Linked DNA regions of Homo sapiens: all the other regions are reported to be linked to region 4. The links are microRNA targets in miRTarBase. Many come from high-throughput screens and were not tested one by one. Region 4 holds a microRNA gene; each other region holds the end of a gene's coding sequence. Distances are between the middles of the regions.

Region 1 (5,193 bases), not on the chromosome of region 4:
CCCCCCTGCGGACCTCCACTGGGGGCATCTCCACTTTGGGGCTTCAGGAGCTGAAGGAACAGGTGAGGACAAGCTCTAAATGCCTGCAGCATGCAGCCACACCTCCCCAGGACTGAATACATCCATTGTTTCTGAACCAGCCTGTGGAGGGGGCCCTGGAGCCTCTGCCCGAGGTGACAAGGAAAGGCTGGCGGTGTGAGCCCTGGGGGCACCACTTGAGCTCTCCCGGTCCCACTCTCTCTTTTCTTTCTCCTGCAGAGTCCCTGCCCGAGCCGGGGCCGAGTGGAGGGTGGGGGGGTCAGCAGTCTGCTCCCCAATCACCACCACCCCCACGGTCCCCCAGGAGGTCTCTTTGAAGATTTTGCTTGCTAGGACGGTGCTGTGACTGAAAGGACCCAGGAGTCTGGGACCCCTCCTGGGATCCCCAGCACATTCTCCTGCTCCTGGGAGAGGCCTGGGGGCGGTGCTCACTGGGAGGGCCAGGACTCAGTTCCTGCTCTCATCCTCCCCTGCCCTGATGTCAGCTGCTTTGCACAAAGGTCCTTCTTGTCCACACCCCTTATCCCCAGGCTGGTGCCCCGGGAGGGCTGGAGACCAGGCCATGGGCCCTCACGGAGAGGAAGGGAAGGAAGGAGAGGGAGGGGGAGGATAGAGCCCATCCCAGCCGGGGAGGGGGAGCCCTCTGTACATTTGTAAATATTTAGGGAAAGCCGGGTGGGGGGAGGGGATACAGATGTAGAAGGTGGGTAGGGCTACAGGGGTGGGTGATTTAGGGACAGCCAGGGTCCCAGCCCCAATGTCAGCAGGATAGGGAGAGCCCCAGGACTCAGGAGTGCTGGGCTGGTCCTACTTCCTGCCCCTCTCCAGGCCCAGCTCCCCTCTTGGCAGGGGGAGAGGATGGCCCAGCAGGCCTGGCCCAGCTCCCAGTTCCCCCTGCACCAGCCCCACCCCTAGAGTCCCTTCTATAGGGAGGGGGCAGGAGACCTTCCAGACTTCGGCTGAGCTTGGAGGGTGGGAAGGGAGCCTTCTCAGTCCTCTCTCCCTCCAGTCTGATTTTATAAAGTGCTGACGAGATTGGGAATAAAGAGGCATAAAGAATTCTCTGTGTGTATGTGTGACCAAGCACGCACTGGGGGCCGGGGTGAGGCTGGGCACATGCATGACTTGGTCCCGGGTGAAAGGAAAGGCAGGCCCCAGCAGGGGCAGGGGAGCCTGTGGTGCTCAGCCAGTCCTCCCTCCCCCACGCCTGCCTACCTTTTCAAAACCTCTGAATCACAAGTCCACACTTGGCCAGTTTATTAAAGGCAGGGAGCTTCGGCAGGGTCCAAAAGGGAGAAGTTGGGAGATGCCCCCTCCTCAGCTCCCTCCTTCCCCAACAACTCTTCTACAGCCCAGCCCCCAGGGCCCAGAGGCAGGGCTGGCGTCAGGCAGACTGTACTGCATAAATACGTGGAGGCCACAGCCCGAATCAGCAGCGTCAGGGGGCAGGGAAACTGGGTTTGGGATGAGAAGTGGGTGGCTCTGGGGGCACGTCCCCCAGTGCTTGTCCAGAGCCCAGGGACCCACAGAGCCAGAGAGGGGACCAGTGGGCCAGCTTGGGGTCTGGCTACGGCCAGCCCTGCCCAGCGAGGCTGGCAGGTGGCTCTGGTTTTGGGGGAGAAGTGGGGTGGGGTGTGGCCATGCCACGGCCCACGGGGACAGGGTGGGGTCAGGTGCTGTTGCCCTGCTCCTGTTCAAAGAGTAGCATGGCCAGCTGGGTTCGGGAGCCGAGGCCCTCAAGCACGCTCTGGAGGCAGCGGTGGTACAGGTCCTCACTGAGCCTCGCGCTGCACGTCTGGGCCCGGTAGCGCTGCAGCAGCGCCGGCTCCACCGCCCGCAGCACATGCAGACTGGAGAAGTGGAGGAACAGCTCGTACACATCCAGGCTCTCCAGCAGCTCCTCTTCTTGTTCTGAGGCTGCCGCCAGGCGCCCACGGGCTGCCACATAGTCGGAGTTGTAGAAGCAGGCCTCGCTGGCTGCCTGGCGATCAAAGCGGCCAGTGTCACGGCCCAGCTCTGGGGGCCCAGGCCCTTGTGGTGGGGCCACAGCTGGGTGGAAGGCTTGGAAATGCATGGGAAAGAAGGCCTGCCAGCCGGAGATGGCATGCATGCGGCAGCGGTTCAGGAAGTCAGGCGTGAGCACCGTGTCTGGCCCGGCCAGCAGGAACAGTGTGTCCAGCGGGTGCTTCTTGGAGAGTAGATCCATGAGGCGCAGTGGTGAGGGTGCGGCTGTCTGCACACTGAGCCATGGCACCCGGGCACCGGGGAAACGCCGCTCCAGCTCTGCCACGTGGGCCTTGACAGGTGCGAAGACATCTGCATGGGCCACGCGCTGGGCCTGGCGCGGCTCATACAGTAGCAGCAGGGTCAGGGCTGCCGCAGCATCACCAGGCTCCAGTGCTGCAGTGGCAAAGGCCTCCAAGAAGCCAGGGGCCAGGTCACGCTCAGCCGCAGCTAGAGGCAGCAGCACAGTGAGACGTGAGGCCTCAGTGACATAGGGCACAGGCAAGATCTCCACGCGGCTCAGCGGCCGGAGCAGCTGCACTCGGCGAGTGAGGGGCCGGCGGCCTCCCTGGGGGGTCAGTGCCTCCAGCTGCAAGTCCAGCGTGTATTCCATACCCCGGGCCGGATCAAAGCGTCGGTAGCCATTCACCAGCTGCTGCTTCTGGAGCCGCAAGGCCGGGTGGTAGCGGCGGTTCAGCTCCTCTAGAGCTGTCCCCAGAACATCGGCCACATCAGCCCGGTCAGCCCCACGCAGTGGGCAGCGGGGTGAGCCATCGGCGCAGGAGAAAGCGTGCTGCTCCGTGAAGTAGTCCCAGCGCAGCACCTCAAAGCGGGAGGCCGGGCGGGATGGTGCTGGAATACCCACGGGCCAAGCAGCTGCCTGGTCCCCATCAACGGCCAGATGGCTGGTATTCTGGATCTCCCACTGGATCAGAGAAACAGGCCATCAGCAAGGGACAGATTACAGGGAGCAGCACACAGCTGGGGGACTGGGTAGGCAGTAGGTGCCACTCAGGATGGGCCCCTCATCCCCTGCCAACCTCTGCCCATACCTATCATTTCCCCAGCATAGACAGCCAAGAGGCTCATCAGAGAATGTAGAAACAGGCAGGGGCTGGGAAGTAGTTTTGTTCTGTGATTCTAGTGCTAACTTGTCATTTCTCTGGGCTCTCTGTGACTTCTCAGATCCTGTCCCCGTCACTCTGCCACCCCCAGACCTAGACCATACCTGTAACTCCTGGATCTCCTGGTACGTGCGTTCCAGTTCAGCTCGGGCGAAAGCTTTGTGCAGCTGGTACATGTGCACAGGGTCACGCACAGGGTGGGCTGTCAGGGCACTTCGGAAATGAGGGTCCCCCTCCTGCACTGGCTCCCCAGGGCTCAGCTCCAGATGGCTATAGTGCACCCCCTGGGGAGAGGAAGGGAAGGGATCTGTGATGAGCTGGCATTGTCTTCCGTTGTCTCATAGTAAGTGTCTCATCTCCTCAGCCTATGACCTGTTGTGGACTTGCAGTCTGAGGGTTTAAGTCTACCTTGACCAGTTGTGAGTCTGTGTGACCTTCAGCATGCCTCCGCTAGCTCATCTGCGAAATGGGCATGCGTCCTGTCTCAGAGCTGTCCAAGGGCTAAAATAATAACTAACATCAAATGCCTATTATGTACAAGGCTCCCTGATTTTTTCTAATCCTTGTAACAACCCCGAGCAATAATTATTTCCATTGGCACAAAGGAAGATACTGAAGCCCAGGATATTTAGTAATTTACTGGGGGTCACAGAGATAGAAAATAAATGTCCGAATTGGCATGGAAAAGCAGACCTGTATCTCCAACATCCCTTTGCCTCTCAGAGGGATTTGAACATGACAAGGAGGTATCAGTGGGATAGCTTATCATCCCACCTCGTGGTCACCAGTGCAGCCCACCCCGGTGGCATCGAGAATGCAGCGACCCAGCCACTCGTCAGGGCGCGCACTGACGATGTCGTTGCGGCAGCCTTCCAGGTGGGGGCGCAGTTGTTGCAGCAGCATGCGCGACAGCAGCACCCCAAAGCCTCCGTGGCAGTAGCGGCCGGGGGTGGGCTCTCCGCCGATGAAGTCCTGGGGCCGGCCCAGGTACAGGTGGGCGGCGGAGGCCAGGCTGAGGTGGCCAGTTAGGCGTGCCAGGCCGTGCGCCTCGGTGTAGGTGGTGTCAGGCACCAGGAAGAACCAGTCAAAGTCGTCGCCGTGCTGCTCCAGCAGGTGGCGCAGCGCCAGGTGCAGGTGTCCAATGGGTCGCTCCTCGCCTAGCGTCACCACTGCCATGCCAGGTGGGGCCCGGCGGCCCCGTGCGCCCGTCAGGAACACCACACGCTCCAGCCGGTGCCCCAGCGTGCGGTTCACGGCCACGCCCAGCGTGGGCAGCGTGGTCTGAGAGGTCAGCACCGCCACCAGCAGCCTCTGCCTGATGCCCAGCTCCGTGCTGATGTAGCGGGTCCTAGGGGAGGAGATGGCACAAGCTTATCAAAAGGACAACGGGGCGGGGGGTGGGGGGGAGGTGGTCAGCACAGACCCTGGCAGGTCACGTCTTCTCTGTATCTGTTCTCTCACCTATGAATAGGTTAAAAATAAACCCTCTCTCCCAGGGGTCATGAGGATTTAAACGAAATGGTCTTAAACAGGTAGTGCTTTGCATTTGGGAGATGGCAATACCCACCCAGATAGGAGAGAGATATTGTGGGTCTGACTCCGGGGTTCGCTACTTAGTAGTTATGTCCTTGAGCATGTTATTTAACCTGAGCCATCTGTAAAATGGGACTGATTATATCTGTTTAAAGCACCCAGCCAAACGCTGGACACACCATGTATCTACTCATTTCTATATAAATATGCCATTATGCCACAAATGCCTCACATAAATGACATAAAGGAACGTTTGGCATAGGGGTGTACTGAGTGTTTTTGCGGGGAGGGGCAAACTGCACTCAGGGGCTCTAGGAACTTACCTTTTGGTAAGGCAGAAGGTAAATTGCAGAACCAGCATTTGAACCCAATGTTACTTAGAAGTTATTTCAACTCATCAGCAGAGACATTAATGAGATAGGTACATTCCTCCCTCCCCCATCTCACCCTGAGGTGGCCCTTGTAACCCACTCAGGAACAAGAGATCCAGGTA
Region 2 (5,193 bases), 15 Mb from region 4:
GCGTGAGCCACCGCGCCCAACCGATAAACACATATTTTTAAAAGTGAGAACACATCTAAGAAAATAAAAACTATGACAAATTTTCAATAGATAATTGATCTAGTTAATTGCCAATCAATTTGAATATTTAGTATTCTTACATTATCACTTTTATACTTTTGGGTGATATTACATTGTCTTCCCCCAAACCAGATATAATTGAAAAGTTACACAAAATAAGATTTTTATGACATTTTACCTAATTTTTTTTTTTTTTTTTTTTGAGATGGAGTTTCGCTCTTGTTGTCCAGGCTGGAGTGCAATGGCACTATCTTGGCTCACTGCAACCTCTGCCTCCCGGGTTCAAGTGATTCTCCTGACTCAGCCTCCCGAGTAGCTGGGATTACAGCCATGTGTCACCATGCCTGGCTAATTTTGTATTTTTAGTAGAGATGGGGTTTCTCCATGTTGGTCAGGCTGGTCTCGAGCTCCTGACCTCAGGTGATCTGCCTCCCTCAGCCTCCCAAAGTGCTGGGATTACAGGCTTGAACCACCGCACCTGGCCCATTTTGCCTAATTTTAACTGTGCTTTTTATACGAAGTTATTCCCTCCCTTTCACCCCAATTAGCCCTACTGAGTAGTGCCTATACCTGGCCTGGGGACTCAGTACTACTTGTTAGAAACTATCTTCCTCTACTCCTTAACCTTCTTGCAGATACTTGGGTTGCTGACGGTATCTCCCATCCCATCTCTCCAGAAGTTGTGAAGCCAGATGACCAGCTAGAAATGGGATTGGTATCCTGAATGATATGGAGATATTTTTTGGTTGGTCCTTCATTACATCTTAAAATATGCTTTAAAAAAGGAAGAATTTAAAAGCAATTTACAAAAGTTTCTGACAATACATATACAAACATCTTTATTGACAAGTGAGCCAATAAGGGCACATTTAGTTTACAGATAACCAAAAACATTTGAAATGCATAACATTAAAATTTCCAAGATTCATGTTGCAGTACAAACATGTGGCAGGTTAAACATCAGGCATAAAAAGGACAAATACTGAAACGCAAAGGGCCAGAGATCCCAAGTCGCTTAACACTATTTAAAATGTTATTCAACTGCAAACTTCAGCCTCTGGAACCATCCCAGATAGCTACTGGTTAAGTGATATGAAGTAGGAAAAAAGAAGGTTCTGGAAGGTCTCAAGGAGGCTGTGCAGAAAACAGCACCAGATGGAAGCAAGAGCAGAAAGAAGTCACGTCCCATCTTTATGACAAGACACAGAACAAGATGGTCACAGTTCTTCATGGGTAAACAAAAGATGTGGAAGACACAGCCAACCTTAAGTAACTTCTACTGACGGATGCTCTGGCACTTCTCTATGTAGAGAAGGAGAGAGAAAGAGAGCACCAAGCAGGAGTGGGGGACTCTATATTTATTGTCTGCCAGTTCTTTTATATGCATTGTCTTATTTAATCCTTATGACAACCTCATGAGAAGCCAATGATTTATTCCCTTTGTTGAAACCTAATACAGATAAAGAAACTGAGACTCAGAGTAGGGAGTTTTTCCAAGGTCACATGACTGCTTAGTGGGGATGGCAGAATTCAAACTCAACTTTGGAAAGCCCATGTTGGTCTTCTTTCCTTAGTCAAATTTTGGCTCTCAAATGAATTCCTCTTCACTCAAGAATTTGGCAAGTTTCAATAACTTGAATTCTCCTAACAATATATAGTAACATCCTAGAGGTAGGAGTATTTTGATGCAGCATTTCCCATCTCTTTTATTTTTCTGTCCCCAATTATCTCTCAGTACTTTTCCATTCCACCTAGTTTCTCTGACTGGTTTAAACCCTTTATCTGACTTGATGAATGCTCTGGAACAGGGGCCAAGAAAATATTTTCTGTAAAGAGCCAAACAGTAAATATTTTAGGCTTTCAGGGACATACAACCTACTATGGGCTATATCCCCATCAAAGTCATATAATGAAACTTAACTGACGGTATTACGAAATGGGGCCTTTTGGAGGTGATTAGGTCGTGAGGGTGGAGCTCTCATGAATGGGATTAGTGCCCTTATAAGGGGCTGAAGATACCAGAGCTCTCCCCTTCTACCATGTGAAGACACAGTGAAAGGTGCTTTCTATTAACCAAGAAGCAGACCTTCCCTAGACCCTAAATATGTTGACACCTTGATCTTGGACTTCCCAGCCTCCAAAACTGTGAGAAGTAAGTTTCTGTTGCTTATAAGCTGCTCTGTTTGTGATATTAAAGCCCAGAGGCACAACCTCCGCTGCAGCTACTCAGTTCTGACACTGGACACAAAGGCAGTCAAGGACAACATGTAAATGAGTAAGTGTGGCTGAGTTCCAATAAAATTTTCTTCTGAGAAACAGGTGGTGGGCCAGAGTTGGTCCATGAGTCCAGGCCACAGTTTGTCAATTCCTGCTCTAAACCATTAGTACTAAATACTAAGATGATAAAAGAGGTGAGTTCCTTTTCCTGTGTTTTCTTTTCTTTCTTTTTTTTTTTTTTTTTGAGTAATGATACAGTTTAGATCTGTATCCCCACCCAAATCTCATGTTTAATTGTAATCCCCAATGTGGGAGGTGGGGCCTGGTGCAAGGTGACTGGACCACGCAGGTAGTTTCTCATGAATGATTTAGCACTGTCCCCCTACTGCTGTCTCGTGATAGAGTTCTCATGAGATTTGGTTGCATAAAAAGTGTGTAGCACCTCCCCTCTCTCTTTTCCTCTTGCTCTAGCCCTGTGAAGATACCTGCTCTGGCTTTGCCTTTTGCCATGAGTAAAAGCTCCCTGAGACCTCCCCAGTCATACTTCCTGTACAGCCCATGGAACCATGAGCCAATTAAACCTTTTTTCTTTATAAGTTACCCAGTCTCAGGCATTTCTTTATAGCAGTGTGAGATTGAACCGATACAGACAACAATAACAAAAAGTAGATAAATATGAAGGCCAGAGAAATGGCAACTTCTTCACGAAGGGAAGCTGCTTATCCTCAAGCAAGTCAGTTGAGGACTATCCTGTGAGCTATTTTCCGTGCCTTGTTTTCCACTCATACAGGGAAGTATGCCCTGGTGTCTCACAGTTGCTTCAGTTCTTCTTTACTGGGACCCTAAATATAATAACACACTGAACCACTCAACTTCTCAGACCTTCAATATCCCTGGGGCTTTTTCTCAAATGGACACAGCATAGCTTTCAGAAAGCTGAATAATGTAGACAAAAGAAGTCTCCCTCACCCTTTGATTATGGAAAACCAAAGATTTATTCAGTGCCAAGGATAAGAAAGGAAGGACTTGATCAACAACCACTGTTAAGATTTTGACCCATTCACTACTTCACGTGAACTCCCAGGGAAATGGAAAATGAAAGAAGGTCTCCGCGGTAGAGGGATAACAATGACATAAATCAATGATGATGCCAGGCATGGTGGCTCATGCCTGTAATCCCAGCACTTTGGGAGGCCGAGGCAGGCAGATCACGAGGTCAGGAGATCAAGACCATCCTGGCTAACATGGTGAAACCCCATCTCTACTAAAAATACAAAAAAAATTAGCCAGGCGTACTGGCAGGTGCCTGTAGTCCCAGCTACTTGGGAGGCTGAGACAAGAGAATGGCATGAACCTGGGAGGTGGAGGTTGCAGTGAGCCGAGATCGCGCCACTGCACTCCAGCCCGGGCAACAGAGCAAGACTCTGTCTCAAAAAAAAAAAAAAAAAAAAATCAATGATGTACATAATCCATGTGAACGTAACTTAGAGTTGTCTGTAAATATTATACATCCCAGTTATGGTCATCAACATAGACAGCAGCTTGTTGAGGGAGGAAGGGAATTCTAAGGACTTTGAACCCAGCATTTTTGGTTTTTAAGGCTAATATAAAAGAAATTACACTCTAGATGAATTATACCATATGTGTATCTAGATCTCAAGGAGTAATAAATAACAACATTGTGTCTTCCTGATGATAAGGATGTAAGCCCTCAGCCTAACCTACCCAATAAGAATTTCCTTACAAAGTGAGAGGCTTACAACAAAGCTCTGACATAAACAAGAGAGGGGAAAACTGGATTTCACAATGTTCGTACTGCTACCTACTCTCAGGGACTTCTTGAATTTCCACAGATAGCTATTTGGGACGTTGGAGATTAAAATTTTGAAATCGCTGGCTAGATTTCATAATTATCAAATTAACGGACATAAAGAACCTGCTTATGGCTCAAAACTATGTATTACGCAAATGAAATTAGATGCATACAGAATTGGTCCTCACATGCATATTATGGATGCGCCTTCCACCTAAACACTCAAGTATTTAATACAGTGATAAAACCAACTTACATTTCTTCACATTCAGTAATTTTTCAGGGTTGCTCTTCAGTGTGAACTCTTTGATGTCTGATGAGAGATGAACTGCACTTAAAGCTTTTCCCACACTCATTACATCTAAAGGGTTTCTCTCCGGTATGAGTTCTCTGATGTTGAATGAGAGCTGATGAATGAATGAAGGCTTTTCCACACTCGCTACATTTGTACGGTTTCTTTCCAATATGAATTCTTTGATGTTTAGCAAAATTGGAGCTCCGGCTGAAGGTTTTCCCACATTCATTACACTCATAGGGTTTCTCTCCAGTGTGAATTCTCTGATGTTGAACAAGATGTGTGCTCTGACTAAAAGTTTTTCCACATTCACTGCATTCATATGGCTTTTCTCCAGTATGAACTCTCTGATGCTTAGTTAGGGATGAGCAATGGCTAAAGGCTTTCCCACATTCTTGACATTTATAAGGTTTCTCTCCAGTATGAGTTCTTTGATGTTTAATGAGTGCTGATGAATGAATAAAAGCTTTATCACATTCATTACATTCATAAGGCTTCACTCCAGTATGAATCAACTGATGCTGCACAAGATGTGTACTTCGATTAAAACCTTTCCCACATTCATTGCATTCATAAGGTCTCTCTCCAACGTGAATTCTCTGATGTGTTGCAAGGGATGAGCTTTCTGTGAAGGTTTTCTTGCATTCACTGCATTCAAAGAGAATTCTAGTATGAGTTCTCTGGTGTTTAGTTAAATTAGCTCTGTGGCTAAAAGATTTCCCACATTCATTGCAGGTATAGGGTTTCTCTCCAGTATGGACTCTCTGGTGTCGAATAAGCACTGAATGGTAGGTGAAGAGTTCACCAC
Region 3 (5,193 bases), not on the chromosome of region 4:
TGCTTCCTCGGGATTCTGGGCAATGGTCTGGTGATCATCATTGCCACCTTCAAGATGAAGAAGACAGTGAACATGGTCTGGTTCCTCAACCTGGCAGTGGCAGATTTCCTGTTCAACGTCTTCCTCCCAATCCATATCACCTATGCCGCCATGGACTACCACTGGGTTTTCGGGACAGCCATGTGCAAGATCAGCAACTTCCTTCTCATCCACAACATGTTCACCAGCGTCTTCCTGCTGACCATCATCAGCTCTGACCGCTGCATCTCTGTGCTCCTCCCTGTCTGGTCCCAGAACCACCGCAGCGTTCGCCTGGCTTACATGGCCTGCATGGTCATCTGGGTCCTGGCTTTCTTCTTGAGTTCCCCATCTCTCGTCTTCCGGGACACAGCCAACCTGCATGGGAAAATATCCTGCTTCAACAACTTCAGCCTGTCCACACCTGGGTCTTCCTCGTGGCCCACTCACTCCCAAATGGACCCTGTGGGGTATAGCCGGCACATGGTGGTGACTGTCACCCGCTTCCTCTGTGGCTTCCTGGTCCCAGTCCTCATCATCACAGCTTGCTACCTCACCATCGTGTGCAAACTGCAGCGCAACCGCCTGGCCAAGACCAAGAAGCCCTTCAAGATTATTGTGACCATCATCATTACCTTCTTCCTCTGCTGGTGCCCCTACCACACACTCAACCTCCTAGAGCTCCACCACACTGCCATGCCTGGCTCTGTCTTCAGCCTGGGTTTGCCCCTGGCCACTGCCCTTGCCATTGCCAACAGCTGCATGAACCCCATTCTGTATGTTTTCATGGGTCAGGACTTCAAGAAGTTCAAGGTGGCCCTCTTCTCTCGCCTGGTCAATGCTCTAAGTGAAGATACAGGCCACTCTTCCTACCCCAGCCATAGAAGCTTTACCAAGATGTCATCAATGAATGAGAGGACTTCTATGAATGAGAGGGAGACCGGCATGCTTTGATCCTCACTGTGGAACCCCTCAATGGACTCTCTCAACCCAGGGACACCCAAGGATATGTCTTCTGAAGATCAAGGCAAGAACCTCTTTAGCATCCACCAATTTTCACTGCATTTTGCATGGGATGAACAGTGTTTTATGCTGGGAATCTAGGGCCTGGAACCCCTTTCTTCTAGTGGACAGAACATGCTGTGTTCCATACAGCCTTGGACTAGCAATTTATGCTTCTTGGGAGGCCAGCCTTGACTGACTCAAAGCAAAAAAGGAAGAATTCTCAAAAGCATTGCCATGAACTGGGATTGGCATAGGGCGGTGGGATTAAGCTGCCTATTGTGTGTGCCCCAGAAATGACACTCTCCAAGGTCCATTCCTGGTGTGAGCAGTGAGGGGGTCAGAGCAAACCCAGTGTGATGCAGATCACACTTGGCCCTTGTATATATATTATCAGTAGCTGGCCAGAAAACCCTACCTTCAAGTCACTGCTCTGTGTTAAAGTATGTGGAAATGCATAGGTGATCTGGGAGAGGAAGGTGACATATCAGCCCATGAACTCCATAGGCCATGAATTTGGCTTTCGGATCAGCTAGGAAGACAGAGAACTGGTCCTGAGAGGTCCTGTGGGCTCTTTGCAAGGGCAAGACAAGTGAGGGATGCAACGAGGACTTGAGATTTGGCAAAGAAATGAGAAAGGAGAAAAGAACCTTTAAAGGATGCAGGCATGGAGCAGCTCACCCTAGAACATCGCAGGCTGATGGTGCTTTAGGCTGGAGCTATTTGGGGCGTCAGGGTGGTGCCAGCCCCTGATCTCACCTTGCCCCTCTTACCTGGGGGTGGGGTTGTGGCAGGCATCTTCACCAGCAGCCCTCACCCCATCACAGGGATTTTTTTCTGCCTTTCCTAATCCACTCAGCTCTGGCTGGAGGTGCTTAGAATAAAACACTGGTGGTGGGGCTTCTCATTCTGGTTAATTTCCTCAACGCCTTTGGAGACAGGTCCAAAATGCAGCTTTGGGAAGCAACTCCGGAGAGTCCCCTGGGAAGAAGAGTATGTCCGAGGACTCAGTCACTTGAGACAGAGTCTGGAGCTGGACTCCTTGAACTGTGTTTCTGAGCTGCAGACACCAAATACCTCCTGGATACAGGTGCCTGGCATGGCTTTTCTCATCTAATACTGACACGTCCCTGTGGCCACAGAGTGTCATAGCCCCATTTACAAATGACATAGCTGAGGCCCAGATGGGGAAAGTAACTTGCCCAGCATCACACAGCTAATCAGTGGCAGAGTTAAGATCTGAACCTGGCTCCGTCTGGCTCCAGAAACTCTGTTCTTCTATTTGGAATTTATCTGTGGAGATTATTCTAGTATATTGATAGCCTACATTTATTTAGCACTTTTTATATTATGCACTTTACATATGTTTTCTCATTTAATCATTACAGCAACCCTGAGTTAGGTATGGTTATAACTTCCCTTTTACATAGGAGGAATCTGAGGCTTAGAGAGGTTAAGTAACTTGCCCAAAGGTACCCAGCTAGTCTCTGCCGGAGCTTGGATTTGAACTTCAGTTTGCCTGGCTCAAATGAGGCTGCAGAGTTGGGAAGGACTTAAAAAGTTTGGAGATTTTTGCCATAAATATTGATTTTTCTGCAAATGAGGATGAACATCTTAATGGCCTTTAAGAAACTTTGCAAATAGTTTTCAAAAATGATGCAACATGGCAGAGAAAATGCACTTGGCTTCCAGCTCCCTCAACAGCCATTAACAGCCTCCTACCGTGGCTCCCACCTCCTATGTCTCCAGAGATCAAGGCAATGGGGAGGGAAAGCTGGCAGGAGGCAGTCCCTTGTGGGCCTGAGGCCCTTTGGCTCCTAAGTGTCCACATTCTGTTCTCTTCCAAGTCCCTTCATTGTTAAGCTGATTCTCCAACAAGATGCAATGAACAGATGCAATGTCTACCCCGCGCTGGGCGAGTTCCCGAGGCCATGGGCTGTTTGGAATCACACTTCATTAAGAGACAAACTGTTCCTTCCCTTATTGTGCCTTAATGCTTATGACAAGGCAGCTCTGAATTGATCCCAAGCTGGAGCCTCTGAATGCTTTAAAGAGTTTGAATATAGACGGTTTGAGAGCAAAAAGGGAGCTTTAAATATTGCTCAGTGGCCCCCATCTCCCCTCTTCCCACATTTACTGAGGCACGAGATGGGATGGGACCTGTCCCGGGTCACAGCAGCAGTCGTCAGCGCCTTGGCCCTCCTGGCTTGTAGGATGCTGCTTTTCCTGGGCTTCTGGCAGTCCAGGCCAGGATGGGGGAGCCAGGAATTCATGTTGTCATTGGAAAAGCTGATAAACAGGAGCACAATTCAAACCGGCTGTTTTCCTCCTTAGAGTCTGGCCTCCCTCTTTCTGGCTGCTCTGTGGGTCTTCCTGTTCTGACTTAGGTTCCTGTCAAGTACTTAAATGCAGCCTTAACATCCCATACAGTCTTGTCCCCACAGCTTCATGTGAACATCTCCATGGGTCATGCATATATCGTCCCTGCAGTGTGCAAAGTGTGCTCACCTGCACTGCTGCACAGGCAACCAACATACTTAGTGCCCAGAGCCTTCTCTCTGGGCCCAGGACTCAGTGATGGGGCCTTACTTAGCCCTGCCTCCTGGGTGGGGTGGGGGAGCTGAGGGATCGTGAGGACAAGAGGTAGAGGGAAAAGAAAAGAAGATGGTGTTTGAGGATAGGGGAGGGACAGGAGAGGGGACAGAAAGGTCCCAGAGCATGATGATGAAGGAAAGGGATCTGGCATTCATGAAGCACCTACGATGGTTCAGGCACAAACACTGAAACCTCAAATTGGCCCTGGCAGAAGGGGACCATCATAGCAAGGTGGGGGGGGGGTGCAGAAAGTGAGTTTCTGTTTCAAGAACAGACTTCACTAGTTCAGAGTTGCACAGCTAGTGAGGTATGGAGCTGGGCTTTGAATCAGGTCAGCTGCCTGAATGCCCAACTTCTTCAGCCCTTGGAAGGAGAGGGTGGGGAGAAGAAGAAGGAAAAGACAAGGAAGAAAGAAAGAAGAGAGAAGGGGAGAGGAATGGAAGTCCAAAGAGTGGGAGGAATTTGATTTCAGAACCATCTCCAGCTGACCCTTGAGCCAGCAAGGACAGGGAGAAGGGAAGAGCAAGAACACGAAGGGCCTCAAGCACCGGGATGCCTTTGCCAGCCTTAGATAATTCCCAGAGCGCACAGAGCCCTGCAGGTTCCTGGGTCCTTCTCCAGAGAAGAGGCACAGAGATTCTGGCAGCAAGGTTCAGAAGGGGTGAGGAAACTGGGCACTGACAAAGGGAGGGGATTGGCTCAAATTCGACCCCAGAGTCAGCTCTGGTGGGGTTGGGAGCCTGGATGGGTGGGAGAAGATAGAATCCAATCGTGAAAACCATAAGGGACCTTCAAACTCATCTTGCCCAGATGTCTCCCATTTCACAGATGAGGGAACTGAGGTTTTGAGAGCTTCCCCTGAGGACTCTGCAAAACGAGGTGGTGTCTGGTTTGGATGAAAGTGGTCGGTGATTCCTCAACTCCTGCCCTGCCTCCCTCTCTCGTTCCTCCCTAACATGTTATGCTCTTGTTGGGGCTGGGATGCCCTAGGCCCAAGGTTACCAAATCCTGGGTTTGGAAAATTGCTGCTGGGGGTGGTATCTAGGACCAGAGAGGAATCTACTATTTCTACTGTGAAATAATTCAGCAGGGGGTCTTCTTACTTCTTCCCTTTGAGGACAAAGTTTCTCTCGAATAAAGAGACTGAAGCAAGAGTGTGTGGCTCAGTTCTGGGGGTTCCTGCCATCACCTCCCTTTTGCCTTCCTCACTTACTTCACAGAACAGCAGCTGAGGCTCAGAGAGGTGAGGCGGCCAGTGCAAAGTCACAGAGCTATGTTGTGGGCAGCAGGAGAAGCCCTGAAGTCCCCAACCTGCCATTCTCAAACCTTCGAGCTCCAAGAAATTTGCATTTTGAAAAAAATTCTTTTCACTTATTTTGCTTTTCTAGCAACTGAGGATGTGAAAGAGGTAGTTACTCACCCAAGATAATATAGTAAACCCTAGCAGATAAGGGACATAAAGCCAGGCCTCCTCATGGTCAGGTCTATACTCTTTGGCACTGCATCAGGTGGCCCAAGGACAGATGCTCCTGTGACACATTCATCCATTCACCTTTTCACCAACCCATTCACCCTAAC
Region 4 (5,000 bases):
TCCATGGGCCCAGGGGAGCAGGTACTTGGGGGATGTCTGATCACCTGAAGCAGGGAGACAGAGGGAGCTCGTGAAGGGTCAGGCTGGGAAGACCACCAGGGGCACACGAGCACTGGGGCCTCCCCAAGGTGGGCCACAGGCAGGAGACAGAAACAGGCTGCAAAACATCGTGGAGCCAAAAGGCGGACGAACGACTGGGCCAGGGGTCGACGACTGGGCCGTACATGGTCACTGAGAGCAGCTCAACTATTTCCTTCTTTTTTTTTTTTGAGACGGAGTCGCACTCTGTCGCCCAGGCTGGAGTGCAGTGGCGCGATCTCAGCTCACTGCAACCTCCACCTTCGGGTTCGAGCGATTCTCCTGCCTCAGCCTCCCGAGTAGCTGGGGCTACAGGCACGAGCCACCACGCCCGGCTAATTTTTGTATTTTTAGTAGAGACGGGGTTTCACCGTGTTGGCCAGGCTGGTCTCCAACTCCTGACCTCAGGTGATCCACCCGCCTCGGCCTCCCAAAGTGCTGGGATTCCAGGCGTGAGCCCCTGCATCCGGCCGACTGTTTTCTCTTTGTCTGGGCACTTCGCCTGGTCAAATCATGACTGCGCATTCAGGCCTCTCCCAAAGAGAAACGCTGGCGCTGGGGGCTCATGTCCAGGAGACGACCAGGTCCCCTGCGGCGAAAACCCAGCAGGCAGGGGCACCGGGTTGAAATGGGGCTCCGTCACCTCCGAGGGAGCAGGAGTGAAGACCCGAAGGTGAGCGTGGATTCTCTGCCAAGAATCCCGTAGGTGGCTGGTGGAGGTCGCCTCGCCTTTCTGGACCGAAGTGACCTCATGTTTGGGGCAGGAATCAGCAAAGTGGCCCCGCAGCGGGGAGAGGATTTGAGGCTCCAGGGCAGAGGGTGCTCCACGCACACCTGAGCGTCCTCCAGGGCTGAGTTTCAGGAACATCCTGGGGATGCCCCTGAGGGTCTCAGCCCTTCCTCTCGGCTCACCTCTCACCCCCTGGGGCAGGTGACCCCATTTCTCCTGCCTCTGCCCGGAGGGCTGCTCCCGGCCAGCTCCCCGTGCTCGGATTCAGGGGCACGCTCCCTCCGGTCTCCACTCCTGCTCCCTCGGAGGTGGCAGAGCCCCCATTCCAACCCAGTGCTCCTGCCTGCTGGGCCACACTCTCCACTCCAGCACGCAGCTCGCCCCAAGGTCTTCGGAGATGGTTTCCACCACCTCCCCTCCCACAAGCCCTCACCCAGGGCCCTTTAATCCACAGTAAGGGGCCTGTGGTGGCCCTGCCCAAGGCAGGTGGGACTTAGAACTGGCCACTGGGGGTCTCAGTGGAGGGGGGAGCAGAGGTCCCAAGCAGCCTTCAGTGGACGCCACTCAGGACGTGATCCAGGGGCTCACTGGACGACGGGAATCTGAAGACCACATTTGCCAGGGCCCCAAGAGCTCCCAGGCCTCCGCCTCCTTCCTGAAAGCCGCTTCCCTCAGGAGCCCACTCGGTCACTCCCACCGCCCAGGAGCTGACCCCCCGAGGAGCCCTGCCTCCAGGCACAGCCCTGCCCTCGGGGGCCGCCCCATCCTGCCTCTCACGGCTGGCGCTCTTCTACCCTCCACCCTCTGAGCCCCGGCATCCCAGAATGCGGGAGGGTTTCCCTCAGAGGGGGTTGCAGAGGTTCATAAAAAAAAGTGCTTCTTCAGCCAGGTGCGGTGGCTCACGCCTGTCATCCCAGCACTTTGGGAGGCCGAGGCGGGCGGATCACAAGGTCAGGAGATCGAGACCAACCTGACCAACGTGGCGAAACCCCGTCTCTACTAAAAATACAAAAATTAGCCAGGCGTGGTGGCGGGTGCCTGTAATCCCAGCTACTGGGGAGGCTGAGGCAGGAGAATCGCTTGAACCCGGGAGGCGGAGGTTGCAGTGAGCCGGAGTTGAGATTGTGCCACTGCACTCCAGCCTGGCGGCAGAAAAAAAAAAAAAATGCTTCTTCACAACAAAGGTGGTAAATCTGTTCCTGAGAGGTGGGACAGGAACGCTAGAAAATGACTCCCAGCCGGGCGCGGTGGCTCATGCCTGTAATCCCAGCACTCTGGGAGGCAGAGGCGGGCGGATCACTCGAGCTCAGGAGTTCGAGACCAGCCTGGCCAACCTGACGAAACCCCATCTCTACTAAAAATACAAAATTAGCCGGAAATCACTTGAACCCGGGAGGCAGGGGTTGCAGTGAGCCAAGATAGCACCACTGCACTCCAGCCTGGGCAACAGAGCAAGACTCTGTCTCAAAAAAAAAAAAAAAAAAACAGAAAATGACTCCAGAAGGACCTCAGTGCAAGTGGCCCCCGGACAGGGAACCACGTGGAAGGTGGAGCTGTGTGGGCACATTTCACGCCTGCCCTGGAGGGGCCGCGGAGCCCAGGCCCTGAGCCAGGCATCGGGTCTGAGGGTGGGCACGTTTCCTGGGGCTCCCAGGCCAGCGGCCACGGTGGCAGCCCGGGCTGGCTTTCCCCTGCCCTCCCCCAAGGGCAGCCCCACGCTCAGGGCTGGGTCCCCTTGGGACACCGAAGCCGGCCTGTCATTGGGGCAGACCACAGGCGTGAGAGGCACGGCGGGGCTGGCAAGCTGGCAACGGGGGAGACGGGAGTTGCCAAGACCCTGCCTCTCCTCCCTCGAGGAGGCGCCGGAGGATTCCGTCAACGTGACTGCTCCGAGCGACTCCGAGAGAGGCAGGGCAGAGAGGGAGGGGCTGCCAGGACCTACCCCTGGCTTCCAGCTCAGCAGCTGGGTTGGGGACACCGGGCCAGGCTCCATAAACTCTCCACACATCTTCCCATGGCTTGGCATCCACACTGCTAGGCCAGGCAGGCTCCGCCTCTCCAGCCCTCACCCTGCAGGGTCAGCCAGGCTCCCTTGTAGCCAAGGTGTCCTGCAGCCAAGGTGTGCCCACCTGCCATACCCAGGCCAGCCACAGATAGGCTCGGGCTGATGCCGTGTCCCAGGGCCTCGGCTGGCTTCCCCTCCAACACCAGAGAACTTCGAAGTTCCCCAAGCCTCATGGGAGGAAGGGGATTAGCAGCTCTGAACGACGCTTTTGTCCAAGGCAGGCTAGCCTCTTAGCACCCGCAGCAACCTGCCTTCCCCAGCGTCCATTCTAGCACCTCTGCCTGCCCCACGTCCGCTCCAGAGCCTCTGCCGGCCCCACGTCCACTGCAGAGCCTCTGCCTGCCCCACGTCCGCTCCAGCGCCTCTGCCGGCCCCACGTCCACTGCAGAGCCTCTGCCGGCCCCACGTCCACTACAGCGCCTCTGCCGGCCCCACGTCCACTCCAGCGCCTCTGCCGGCCCCACGTCCACTCCAGCGCCTCTGCCGGCCCCACGTCCACTCCAGAGCCTCTGCCTGCCCTGGCACCCACTTTGCTTTTAGCCCCCGGGCTGGGCATGGCTGACCTTGAGGAGAAGCAGACAAAATCCAAACCTGGGCTGCTCTTGGAGGCCCCACAGCCAGGCACATCTCCCCCAGCGGCCTAGGGCTCCGTCTTCCTCAGGGCCAGCCCACCCCACCACTGCCTCCCTGTGCAGGCAGCCTGGAGGCTTCAGCTTCAGCTCAGAACTGGGCTACAAATACCAGCCAGGAAGCCGGCCCTGCCCCAGCCCAGGGCAGGTCGAGGATGCCAGAGTGGCAAGGGCAGGGGCAGTGGGGCCCTCTTGAGAAAAGGAACAGGCCAGGGCCAAAGCAACACGGAGGCCCTGTCCTGAAAGGAAAGGGGCGCCCTCAGAGGTCAAAGTCCAAGATGAGAGGCCTTCTGTGGTCCTGACCAGGAAGCTTCACGCTGGAGGCCACGGGAAGGCCAAGGACCTGTCAGACCTCCATGGGCTCTGAAGCCTCGAGCTGGACCTGGAGTGGTTAAGAAACATTAACAGGGCTGGGCGCGGTGGTTCACACCTGTAATCCCAGCACTGTGGGAGGCCTAGGTGGGAGGATCACCTGAGGTCAGGAGTTCGAGACCAGCCTGGCCAACATGGAGAAACCCTGTCTCTACTAAAAATACAAAAATTACCCCGGCGTGGTGGCACATGCCTGTAAACCCAGCTACTCAGGGGGCTGAGGCAGGAGAACCGCTTGAACCCAGGAGGCGGAGGTTGCGGTGAGCCGAGATTGTGCCATTGTACTCCAGCCTGGGCGACAGAGCGAGACTCCATCTCAAAAAAAAAAAAAAAAAAAAAAAAAGCAGCATCAACAGCCTTCTCTGATACCAGCTTCACCCTCCCTGCCCGGGCCCAGAACACTTTCTGGGCATGGAGCTTGCTGCCGGGGACGTGAGGGGCTCCAGCAATTCCAGGGCCCAGGTCAGCTCTGAGCGGCCCCTCCCAGGCCTTGCCTTGCTCCGAGTCTCACGTTCAGTGGCGTCGTCGAGAAGAACCGTCTTGCCTGTTGCTATGCACAGCGTGCCAGGACGGGCACCACACTGATGCCTGACGGGCAGGAGCCCGGCGTCTCCAGACGCTCCCATCTGGGGCACGCAGCCCAACCCCAACCGGCCACGGAAGGCAGGACACCGCGGGTGAGAGCCTGCGCTGAGGCTGAGTGGCCGGGGTCTGAACGTCGCCCCTCGGCTAAGCCACTCACGTGACTTCATCTGAGTCACTCTCTGAGCCTCATTCCTCATATATAAAAACAGTCTGGGCCAGGCACGGGGGCTCCCGCCTGTAATCCAGCACTGTGGGAGGCGGAGGCAGGTGGATCCACTGAAGCCAGAAGTTCAACATCAGCCTGCGCAACATAACGAAACCTCGTCTTTACAAAAAATACAAAAATTAGCCAGGCATGTTGGTACATGCCTGTAGACCCAGCTACTTGGGAGGCTGAGGTGGGAGGATTGCTTGAGCCTGGGAGATGGAGGCTGCAGTGAGCCGAGATGGTGCCACTGCACTCCAGCCTGGGCGAGAGAGTGAGACTCCCACAAAAAAAAAAAAAAAAAAAATTAAAAATGTAAAACAAAATTCAAAACAC

Evidence for each region. The annotated mature microRNA hsa-miR-3183 reads GCCUCUCUCGGAGUCGCUCGGA and lies in region 4 at 2,697-2,718, opposite strand. An mRNA with a match to its seed (bases 2 to 7 or 8) in the 3' UTR can be bound and repressed. Matches are read on the target gene's strand: a 7mer-m8 pairs with bases 2 to 8, a 7mer-A1 pairs with bases 2 to 7 and ends in A, and an 8mer does both.
Region 1: miRTarBase lists ASIC4 as a target of hsa-miR-3183. Seed matches in the 3' UTR shown: 7mer-A1 at 615-621 and 7mer-A1 at 892-898.
Region 2: miRTarBase lists ZNF286A as a target of hsa-miR-3183. Seed matches in the 3' UTR shown: 7mer-m8 at 2,724-2,730.
Region 3: the mRNA of CMKLR1 is a reported target of hsa-miR-3183. Seed matches in the 3' UTR shown: 7mer-A1 at 1,491-1,497, 7mer-m8 at 2,467-2,473, 7mer-A1 at 4,045-4,051 and 8mer at 4,665-4,672.

What each region holds. Positions count from the first base shown.
Region 1 is chr2:219,537,675-219,542,867 of GRCh38, forward strand. ASIC4 (acid sensing ion channel subunit family member 4) reads left to right here. Exons shown (of 10, transcript NM_018674.6): 9 at 1-62; 10 at 259-1,098. The coding sequence ends at 372. It overlaps CHPF (chondroitin polymerizing factor), which reads right to left. Exons shown (of 4, transcript NM_024536.6): 2 at 3,942-4,515; 3 at 3,272-3,451; 4 at 1,280-2,968. The coding sequence ends at 1,709. Among named protein-coding and RNA genes, the nearest start is that of CHPF, 3.5 kb to the right of the region's middle. RefSeq lists enhancers at 1-544, 545-1,100.
Region 2 is chr17:15,716,467-15,721,659 of GRCh38, reverse strand. ZNF286A (zinc finger protein 286A) reads right to left here. Exons shown (of 6, transcript NM_001130842.2): 6 at 873-5,193. The coding sequence ends at 4,370. It overlaps ZNF286A-TBC1D26 (ZNF286A-TBC1D26 readthrough (NMD candidate)), which reads right to left. Exons shown (of 23, transcript NR_171000.1): 6 at 4,347-5,193. Among named protein-coding and RNA genes, the nearest start is that of TBC1D26, 13 kb to the left of the region's middle.
Region 3 is chr12:108,287,620-108,292,812 of GRCh38, reverse strand. It overlaps CMKLR1 (chemerin chemokine-like receptor 1), which reads left to right. Exons shown (of 4, transcript NM_001142343.2): 4 at 1-4,767. The coding sequence ends at 972. Among named protein-coding and RNA genes, the nearest start is that of CMKLR1, 49 kb to the left of the region's middle.
Region 4 is chr17:1,019,833-1,024,832 of GRCh38, forward strand. It overlaps MIR3183 (microRNA 3183), which reads right to left and starts at 2,727; the gene lies at 2,644-2,727. All of the region lies in intron 16 of ABR (ABR activator of RhoGEF and GTPase), which reads right to left.